Linked DNA regions of Homo sapiens. The protein of the gene in region 1 interacts with the protein of each later gene in a biochemical or structural test. Each region holds a gene or a part of one and is shown on either strand. Other genes may lie near its edges.

Region 1 (2,824 bases):
GTCAGCGACCTCCTGCTGGCTGTGGCTTGCATGCCCTTCACCCTCCTGCCCAATCTCATGGGCACATTCATCTTTGGCACCGTCATCTGCAAGGCGGTTTCCTACCTCATGGGTGGGTGAGACAACCACCCCACCCCCACTTGCCACTCTCCCCGCCTAAAGCTCTTGTGGATGTAGGGGTCTTCCCCGGTTGGCAGGGAGGGGTGTGAGGAAGTCCCACTGATGCTTGTGTAGTGCAAGTTTCCTAGGTGACTCCTTCCTTTCTCTTCCCTTGTTTAGGGGTGTCTGTGAGTGTGTCCACGCTAAGCCTCGTGGCCATCGCACTGGAGCGGTACAGCGCCATCTGCCGACCACTGCAGGCACGAGTGTGGCAGACGCGCTCCCACGCGGCTCGCGTGATTGTAGCCACGTGGCTGCTGTCCGGACTACTCATGGTGCCCTACCCCGTGTACACTGTCGTGCAACCAGTGGGGCCTCGTGTGCTGCAGTGCGTGCATCGCTGGCCCAGTGCGCGGGTCCGCCAGACCTGGTGAGCTTGCCCATAAACTATCCTAGGAATTCCTTTCTCACCCCTATTAGATGCTTACGACCATTGCCCAGAATCTTCCTCCAGCTTCCCGGAGAATTACCACGCCAACTCCTATTCTGCATCCACCACCCTGGAGTTCCAGTTTGGGGCCCCTCCCCAGTTCTCTCTCCCTTCCCAGCGGCACCCCCAAATCCTACTCCTACTTCAGGTACCTGGCCACAGCCCTAGAAACACTAGTCCTTGGCTTTTTCTCCATCTGTGATTACAGCTGGACAGAAACCCGAGTGATCTGTCTGTGTTGCCTTCAGGTCCGTACTGCTGCTTCTGCTCTTGTTCTTCATCCCGGGTGTGGTTATGGCCGTGGCCTACGGGCTTATCTCTCGCGAGCTCTACTTAGGGCTTCGCTTTGACGGCGACAGTGACAGCGACAGCCAAAGCAGGGTCCGAAACCAAGGCGGGCTGCCAGGTGGGGCTGGACCACGTGAGCAAAATCTGGGCGAGGCGGAGCTTTGGAGGGCGACGGGGCCTGCTGGAGTGGGTGGGACTGAAATGAAGGTGAGGGTGAGAAGGAAGCTGGAAATGGAGTTGAGCTGGGAGCGGAGGTCAGGTGGGGACTGGGCTGGAGACTGGGGGGACTCGCCTTTTTCTCTGACCGCCCACCCTTTGTGCTCAGGGGCTGTTCACCAGAACGGGCGTTGCCGGCCTGAGACTGGCGCGGTTGGCGAAGACAGCGATGGCTGCTACGTGCAACTTCCACGTTCCCGGCCTGCCCTGGAGCTGACGGCGCTGACGGCTCCTGGGCCGGGATCCGGCTCCCGGCCCACCCAGGCCAAGCTGCTGGCTAAGAAGCGCGTGGTGCGAATGTTGCTGGTGATCGTTGTGCTTTTTTTTCTGTGTTGGTTGCCAGTTTATAGTGCCAACACGTGGCGCGCCTTTGATGGCCCGGGTGCACACCGAGCACTCTCGGGTGCTCCTATCTCCTTCATTCACTTGCTGAGCTACGCCTCGGCCTGTGTCAACCCCCTGGTCTACTGCTTCATGCACCGTCGCTTTCGCCAGGCCTGCCTGGAAACTTGCGCTCGCTGCTGCCCCCGGCCTCCACGAGCTCGCCCCAGGGCTCTTCCCGATGAGGACCCTCCCACTCCCTCCATTGCTTCGCTGTCCAGGCTTAGCTACACCACCATCAGCACACTGGGCCCTGGCTGAGGAGTAGAGGGGCCGTGGGGGTTGAGGCAGGGCAAATGACATGCACTGACCCTTCCAGACATACGAAACACAAACCACAACTGACACAGGAAACCAACACCCAAAGCATGGACTAACCCCAACGCACAGGAAAAGGTAGCTTACCTGACACAAGAGGAATAAGAATGGAGCAGTACATGGGAAAGGAGGCATGCCTCTGATATGGGACTGAGCCTGGCCCATAGAAACATGACACTGACCTTGGAGAGACACAGCGTCCCTAGCAGTGAACTATTTCTACACAGTGGGAACTCTGACAAGGGCTGACCTGCCTCTCACACACATAGATTAATGGCACTGATTGTTTTAGAGACTATGGAGCCTGGCACAGGACTGATTCTGGGATGCTCCTAGTTTGACCTCACAGTGACCCTTCCCAATCAGCACTGAAAATACCATCAGGCCTAATCTCATACCTCTGACCAACAGGCTGTTCTGCACTGAAAAGGTTCTTCATCCCTTTCCAGTTAAGGACCGTGGCCCTGCCCTCTCCTTCCTTACCCAAACTGTTCAAGAAATAATAAATTGTTTGGCTTCCTCCTGAACTTCCTTTCTGGATTCTTCTGGGGCAGGTGAGGAGGCATAGGATTTTGCAGTATCCTTCTGTCGGGTCTCTCCCACTGTTGCACACTGCTGTGCACAACCCCTTGCCAGAAAGCCCAGCCTCTGAGGTTCAGCGTGGCTGTGCATATTCTTTCTGAGTTTTCATCCTCTACCTACATTCCAATGTTGCAATAACTGTGAATGGGGATGGAAAATGGCATATCCATGACATATCATGATTCCTGATCACATTATCCCAAAGTGGTGCCACTGTTAAGGTACTATATTAATGGATGCTTATTAAATTTTGATGAAAAGATAAAAGAGGAAGCACTGTATAATAAGACTAAGTTTATTCAATGTGTGTTTGAAACACCAGAGATCAGACCATGACAGGTATACAGAATGAATACAGTTAATTAAAGAGTAGGGATTTTTTGCTGTACTCTCTTCCCCAGTGTCAAAACCTGGCCAAGATTCTGCCAAATGGAAGCACTTTTAGTAGCT
Region 2 (6,979 bases), on another chromosome or scaffold:
CCTGGAAATTCCACTAAGTTTTCTACACATACAAAATTGACATATGTCTTTGAGCTAGGTCTCATGACTAAAAAAATCGTGTATTGAAAATATATCTGTTTCAGGAACTAATCTTCGGGGATACCTCCCCAACTCTGAGCAAGATCTTACTTAAATTCATTTCACCGCAATCAGATGGGAATTTCTAGACTCCAAACCAGTGAACAGTCACAGGTTTCCTCTCTCCACTATTTCCTTTCCAACGCGGCATCTGGATATGGCACCCTCCACTCTCAGTCCTCCAGATAAAGGCAGGGACCAGCTGGTGCGTCTCATTCCATGATGGGGAAGAGTGGGTGGTGGTGGGAAGGACACAGAGGGCACTGCCTTTTCCATTCCTTTTCTGAGACAAGAGAATGAGCTTGGCAGAAAAGTTAGTTACCGTCTCACATTTGATGAAATACAAAACAATCTCCAAACAGTGCGAACTCCCATACAACTTCCTTTTTCTCTATTTGGACTGAAAAGCAAAACCATTTCTCCATAATGTACATACATAGCAAGGTCTACACAGCAGACAGCCTAACAGGGCATCCCCCAGCAGTGGTTTGCATACGTTCATGCGGGTGCCCAGTCCTCCACAGACCCTCCCCCTACTCTACTTTTCTTGAAAACATGTGTGCACCTTCCATGCCTGCTGTGTATTTTTTAAATTGTCTGTCTCCTCCACTAGAATGGAAGCATCACAAGCACAGGGATTTTGTCTGTCTTGCTCACCACTGAATCCCAACAGTGCCCGAAAGACAGTTGGTGTCTTTGATAGGGTTATACTAAAATTAGACAGACTTGAGTACATGTCGTTTATTTGGGAGAGGAGGAAGAAATGAGAAGAGTAAGACAAAGAAGGAGGAAAAAACAACTAAAGAGATGTTATCAGCTGGGCTTGGTGGCTCACACTTGTAATCCCAACACTTTGGGAGACTGAGAAGGGAGGATTACTTGAGCCTAGGAATTTGAGACAAGCCTAGGCAACATGGTGAGACCCTGTCTCTACAAAAAATTAAAGTATTAGCAGAGTATGGTGGTGTGCACCTGTGTTCCCAGCTACTCAGGAGGCTGAAGTGGGAAGATTGTTTAAGCCAGGAAGCCGGGTTTGCACCACTGCACTCCAGCCTGGGTGACGGAGTAAGACCCTGTCTAAAGAGAGAGAGGGAGAGAGAGAGAGAAAAAAAAAAGAGAGAGAGAGCTGTTATCAAGTTCACCGATACAGGCAAAGGACCGTTGAGAAGTCTTTAGAAGCTTCCAGAAGGGTTCATACAGAGAGACTGGGGTTCCCATTCCCCACTGGCTGAAGATTGTCTTTCGGGGAGATAACACCCAAACTTACAGGCTGAACCTCTGCAAGGGCTGAACTTTGAAGGAGATAAGCCAAGAGGGGTGCTTTGAAAGCTTGAAGTGGGAATGCTGTCTGCTGAAAACTGCCCAGCCTGGCTAGGCTGCAGCTGAAGCCAGAGGGAGAACGTGGAACTGTGGTGAGGAGCACCAAAGGCATCTGCCTCAGGAGACATCAAGCCCATTTTTTTAAGTGAACAAATGGATTATCTTTAATGCGGATATGCATCTGGATTACAGGAATAGTGTCGGCTCCAGGCCTAACTTGCTTAGGAACCATAGTCAGAATAATTAGTACCTGTTGACCCTGTAAGAAGGAAAAATCATGACTATGGCCAAGGAGTTCAGATCCCTTATGTCTTTCTATTTTCCTAGCAGCTCTTCTATCACACATTTCCTGCTCAGAATTTCCACTCCTGAGAGACAAGCGGCTACAACTGCTTTATTTTACAATAAAGAGGCAAGCAGCTCTCTTGATCGTAAATGAGAAAGGCCCATGCACAAGCCCTTCTTCAGCTTCTGATGGTCCCTGTCACCTCTGGCTCTGCACTGGCATTTCCACGCTGGCCTCCTTGGCCCACTTGTCTGGTTCTGTACCAGCTCTTTTTCCTCCACCCACTCCTTCACGCTGTCACTCCTCAGCGGTCTGTCTAGAGGCACCCTGCCACCCATTGCTAGCTGCCTTCCTCAACTCTCCCTATAACTCCCAGGCTGGCAGCCACCACCCACATGCCAGACTCTGGGTCCACCCCTCCAGTGTCTCTCTGCTCAGGACAAAGGCTCCCAAACTCCTCCTAGACTGTCAATGCACAAACGATCAACCAATCCCATACTGGACTCATTACCCGCTCCCCACTGGCCCACTACCACCACGGCCACACTCCAAGCCTGCTTTTCCTTCTGAATTCCCTGTCTTGGATAATACTCTACCACCCACCCTTGTCTCCCAGCCTGGAAACTCAAGGTCAGTCTCAGTCACCAAGTCCGGTTCCCTCTACCAGTTTCCTGAGCAGCAACAGGTTGTTCCCTGGGAGGCTGGAATTTTTCTTCTTTTCTCTACTTTTGTTTTCTGAATGTTCTCTGATGAACACTTATGACTTGCATAATGTTTATTATGTTTCCTAATAATTAATGGGTTTCATAATGGCTTATTATTCTAAAACAAATCTACCTTGATTGTTCCTGCTTGCCCATCCCCGAGGGCCTCCTATCCAGCCCTCCCCTTCCAGTCCCTCTGCCTTTTGGGCATCTTCCATATTACCACCTAGCTCCCCTCACCAAAACATTTCTCCAAGATTACCTCCTACCATCTCCACTCCATAGTCCCCAAATATCAGAATTGTTGAGAAGTGTTTGTCCACTTGTTTGCTTCAGCTCCCCTATTGTATTGTCAGCTCTTGTTCATACTGAATCCCTGGGGCCTGGCACAAAGTAAGTGTTGAATAAACATGAATTAAATGGATCAAGGCCAGGAGTTGAGTAACTGGTATAAGGTAGGGAATTTCTATAGAAATGATCTCAAAGTGTGCTTGGCGGACTAGCATTTTCAGTATGGCCTGGGAACTTGTTAGAAATGTAGATTCTTGGTGGGGCGTGGTGGCTCACGCCTGTAGTCCCAGCATTTTGGGAGGCCAAGGTGGGTAGATCACCTGAGGTCAGAAGTTCGAGACCAACCTAGCCAACATGGTGAACCCTTGTCTCTACTAAAAATATAAAAATTAGCCAGGCATGGCTGCACATGCCTGTAATCCCAGCCGCTGGGGAGGCTGAGGCAGGAGAATCGTTTGAACCTGGGAGGCAGAGGTTGCAGTGAGCCGAGATCATGCCACTGTACTCCAGCCTGGGCGACAGAGTGAGACTCTGTCTCAAAGAAGGAAAGGCAAGGAAAGGAAGGAAGGAAGGAAGGAAGGAAGGAAGGAAGGAAGGAAGGAAGGAAGGAAATGAAGAAAGAAAGAAAGAAATAAAGAAGAAAGAAAGAAAGAGAGAGAGAAAGAGGGAAAGAGGGAGAAGGAGAGACGGAGGGAGGGAGGGGGGAAGGAAGGAAGGAAGGAGGGAGGGAAGGAAGGAAGGAAGGAAGGAAGGAAGGAAGGAAGGAAGGGAGAGAGGGAAAGAGGGAAGGGGAGAGAGGGAGGGAAGGAGGGAGGAAGGGAGGGAGGGAGGGAGGAAGGAAGGGAGGGAGGGAGGGAAGGAGGGAAGGAGGAAGAAAGGAAGGAAGGAAGGAAGGAAGGAAGGAAGGAAGGAAGGAAGGAATTCGGATTCTTGGGCCCTTCCTCAGACCTACTGAATTAGAAGCTCTGGGGGTATTTCGATAACAAGTTTATGTTTCCAGACATGTCTTGCCACAATCACAAATAAGACTCTTTTTCGCAACTGAACTACACAAACCTTAGCAGGCTCGTGGCGAAACCACTGGAAAGCATTTAATCAGCTTCAGCTCTTTCAAACATGTTGCCCATAGGTTGCAGAAACGCAGCTGCCTCTCAGGATTAGAAAGTGGAGCAGCAACCGGAGGCGTCTCTGGGCCGCCCCCCCAACCCCCCCACCCCGCCTCGCCCACTCCACCCTCACACTGGCGTTGCCACAGTCCCTCCATTCCAGAGGGAATTCCAGAGCGGAATACGGATTCCGATTTTAAAATAAGCGCTTCTAAATCTTTCTCCTTGCATCTAAGACGGGTGGGGGAAAGAAAGGGAGAGGAGTTGAGGTCCCAAGGTTCAAGGCCTGGTGATCTCCAGGTCCCAGGCTGGGCGGCCTCGGTGCACGGAGAGGGCGAGGGGCGTGTTGTGGAGCCTTGGCAAGGCGCTGCTCTTCCTCGCGCCTCGGTTTGCGGTCTGTGAAATGGGGTTGGCAGTGCCTTTGCAGGGACGCGGCGAACTCAAGCACCAGCAAGCGGACTCGAACTCAAAGGGTTTCAGGGTGTAGACGACCAGAGCGCACTGAGGGGCTCCAGGTCGGCCCGCTCCGGAGCCGGGAGAGTAACCGCGTGCAGGGAAAGGCGCACGGCAGCCTCGGTGCCTCCCTTCCCTCCACCGGACGGGTGACTGACTAGGGGTGAGGTCCTCACCTCCAGGCTGCGCAGCTGAGTTCTGGAAGGTACTGTCCTGGGGGTGTGAGTGTGTGGGCCCTCAGGAAAGGTGCGAGGGGCGGATGCCGTGGTCTACCCGAGCTTGCGGGGGTGCGGTGGTCAAGTTCCCCAGGACCCTCGCTGGCGCCGCTTGTCGACAACGGGGAACAGTGGGCGCCGCGGGTGGTGGTAACTTGGCCCGGGAAGAAAACACATCCCTTTCCCAAACCGGATTCCTCTGAGCAAAACCAGATGGTGTCATCCGCATTTTACAGCTGCGTCAAGAGAGGCCCAGGACACCAAGAGCCAGCTGTGGCCAGAGCCCTTTCACTGACCCAGAACACTGGCCCTCGGAAACCTGGAGAACTGCGAGGGCTTTTAATGCGGCTGAGAAGAAAGTGAAGACCCCGACTCCTCCTCTCTCCTTCGAAAGAGCCGACACAGGTATGAAGACCAGCGCCTCGGACGCTCCGGGGTAGGGGGCCGACGCCCCCTCCCTTTCAGAATCACGCCTTGCTGATGCTCAGTCCTGCCCAGTGTCCACCCCCCACCCCCGCCCCCAGTTTCCTTTCTAGCCCCTCCGGTCCCCAAAGCGAACTAAGCTAGCGGCAGCTTCTCCATCCCGGAGGAGACTCCAAACTCCTAGGTTTCCCACCTTGGAGAGTACTGCTCTGGAATGCGCAGGGGAGCGGCACCTGGAAAGGGTTGGGCGGAAGCTTCTCGGACCCAGAGGGGGCGGACACCCGGCACCGCGCGTGGGAGGGATTAACTCCACCCCACTAGACCACCTCCCCCTCTCTCCCAGGAGCCACTTCAACCGGTTGTCGCCCCAGTGGCCGCCCTCTGAGCACGTGTTACTGCCAGTCTGCGTCAGCGTTGGGTAAATACATGACTGGCCGACGCCGCCGGGTGGGGCTATTTAAGAGACAGCCGCCCGCTGGTCCTCCCTGAACTTGGCTCAGCTGCCGGGCTGCTCCGGTTGGAAACGCCAAGCCAGCTGCGTCCTAATCCAAAAGGTAGGTCCCTCGGTTCGTCAGCGGGGGATCCAAGTGTCGTGTGTCTTTGAAGGATGCTGTCTTCAGCTTTGTGCCCATTTCCATTATGCTTTTCTATTTTCTGTGTCTTCCCTCCGAGAGCTCGAAAGACATTTCTTGAAGTCAGAAATAACGGCTCTGGGTCTAAAAGTGAGGTCTGGGTGGGTAGAGCTGCTTTAGAGCCTTTCATACGCCAGCATCATTAAGGGATGAACTACCCATTCGCTAAGATTCGCATGCAGATTGAGTTTGCTAGCTGTTACACAGCGGTGCGGGGGACTTTGCAATCTTTTCTAATAAAATATTAGAGGGTTTTAAGATTTAAATTCATTTTCTAAATACTGCAGAAAATTTCGAGGCTTTACGGATAGAAACTTGAGGGTGTTTTATCCACTAGCGATCTAAAATGCACGGGGCTTTCGAAGCCTGAGCGCTGGGCACATATTTCTGATTTTAAAACCTGCCTATGTTCTGCGTAGTGGCTTATTGCCATTTCCCACGTACACTTTGAGAAAAACTTTATAAATACGGCTTTATTTATTGCTCCTACATTTTAAACTGTGCTTCTCTTTTTCATCATTTACTGTATTTCCATATTGAAAGCTTGTTAGCTATCTGGAAAAGTGCTTTCCCCAGGGTTCTCATTTCTCCCACGGAGTCTTCCCTTTAGGATATTTTTTTCACACTATTTTTAATCTCGTGGGGTTTTATTTTTCTTCTTTCGGTTAGAAGAGAGGCACTCTGCAAACACTTCCTCAAACTTTAGGAAAGCAAAAACATTCCTTCTGCTCAACACGGCAGAAAACAGGGTCTCTGCCCCTTGGCGCTGGGTGAGGAGTTCCCAAAGACCAGCCAGGTGCGCCCGGGGGCGCGCGCCATGGCACTCGGCTGGGGTCAGCGCTTGGCGAGCCCTCGTGCTTGCGGCGGCCTGGCGGGTCTGGAGCACCTGTGTTTGTCCTAAGCCCGCTTCTGGGTGCCCGGCCCGCCGCAGGAGCTCTGTTGCCCAGCCTTTCAGTTAACGCGCCCTCCTCCTTTGCTCGCTACAGCCATGAACAGCGGCGTGTGCCTGTGCGTGCTGATGGCGGTACTGGCGGCTGGCGCCCTGACGCAGCCGGTGCCTCCCGCAGATCCCGCGGGCTCCGGGCTGCAGCGGGCAGAGGAGGCGCCCCGTAGGCAGCTGAGGGTATCGCAGAGAACGGATGGCGAGTCCCGAGCGCACCTGGGCGCCCTGCTGGCAAGATACATCCAGCAGGCCCGGAAAGGTAAGAATGCTGCCTCCCCATCCCTCACTTCTGCCCTTGTTCCCAGGCTCCCGATGCTGACCCTCTTCTCTAGCGCTAGCCTGATGGGGATGACCTCTCTCGGTAGGAAACAAGCAACATGATTTCTGGCGGTCCTTTGTAGCAATCTGAGAAGGGGTATGGAGGACTTAATTTATAAGTAAGGGGAACCTTCTTGAAAAGCTTTCTTTGAACTAATTTTTAGCAGTGTTGCTGATTAAGTTCAACAC

Evidence for each region. Proteins that work in one complex are often made in the same cells at the same time.
Region 2: the proteins of CCKBR (region 1) and CCK form a complex in vitro, tested with the Homo sapiens proteins (3 studies listed by BioGRID).

What each region holds. Positions count from the first base shown.
Region 1 is NC_000011.10:6,269,809-6,272,632, forward strand, and holds the end of CCKBR (gastrin/cholecystokinin type B receptor), read left to right. Parts: coding exon 1-112; intron 113-279; coding exon 280-529; intron 530-837; coding exon 838-995; coding exon of another isoform or gene 996-1,202; coding exon 1,203-1,735; 3' UTR 1,736-2,319; downstream 2,320-2,824. UniProt on the Homo sapiens protein: Receptor for gastrin and cholecystokinin. The CCK-B receptors occur throughout the central nervous system where they modulate anxiety, analgesia, arousal, and neuroleptic activity.
Region 2 is NC_000003.12:42,263,169-42,270,147, reverse strand, and holds the start of CCK (cholecystokinin preproprotein), read left to right. Parts: upstream 1-3,962; 5' UTR 3,963-4,464; intron 4,465-4,710; 5' UTR 4,711-4,879; intron 4,880-5,240; 5' UTR 5,241-5,451; intron 5,452-6,200; exon of another isoform or gene 6,201-6,325; intron 6,326-6,515; 5' UTR 6,516-6,517; coding exon 6,518-6,731; intron 6,732-6,979. UniProt on the Homo sapiens protein: This peptide hormone induces gall bladder contraction and the release of pancreatic enzymes in the gut. Its function in the brain is not clear.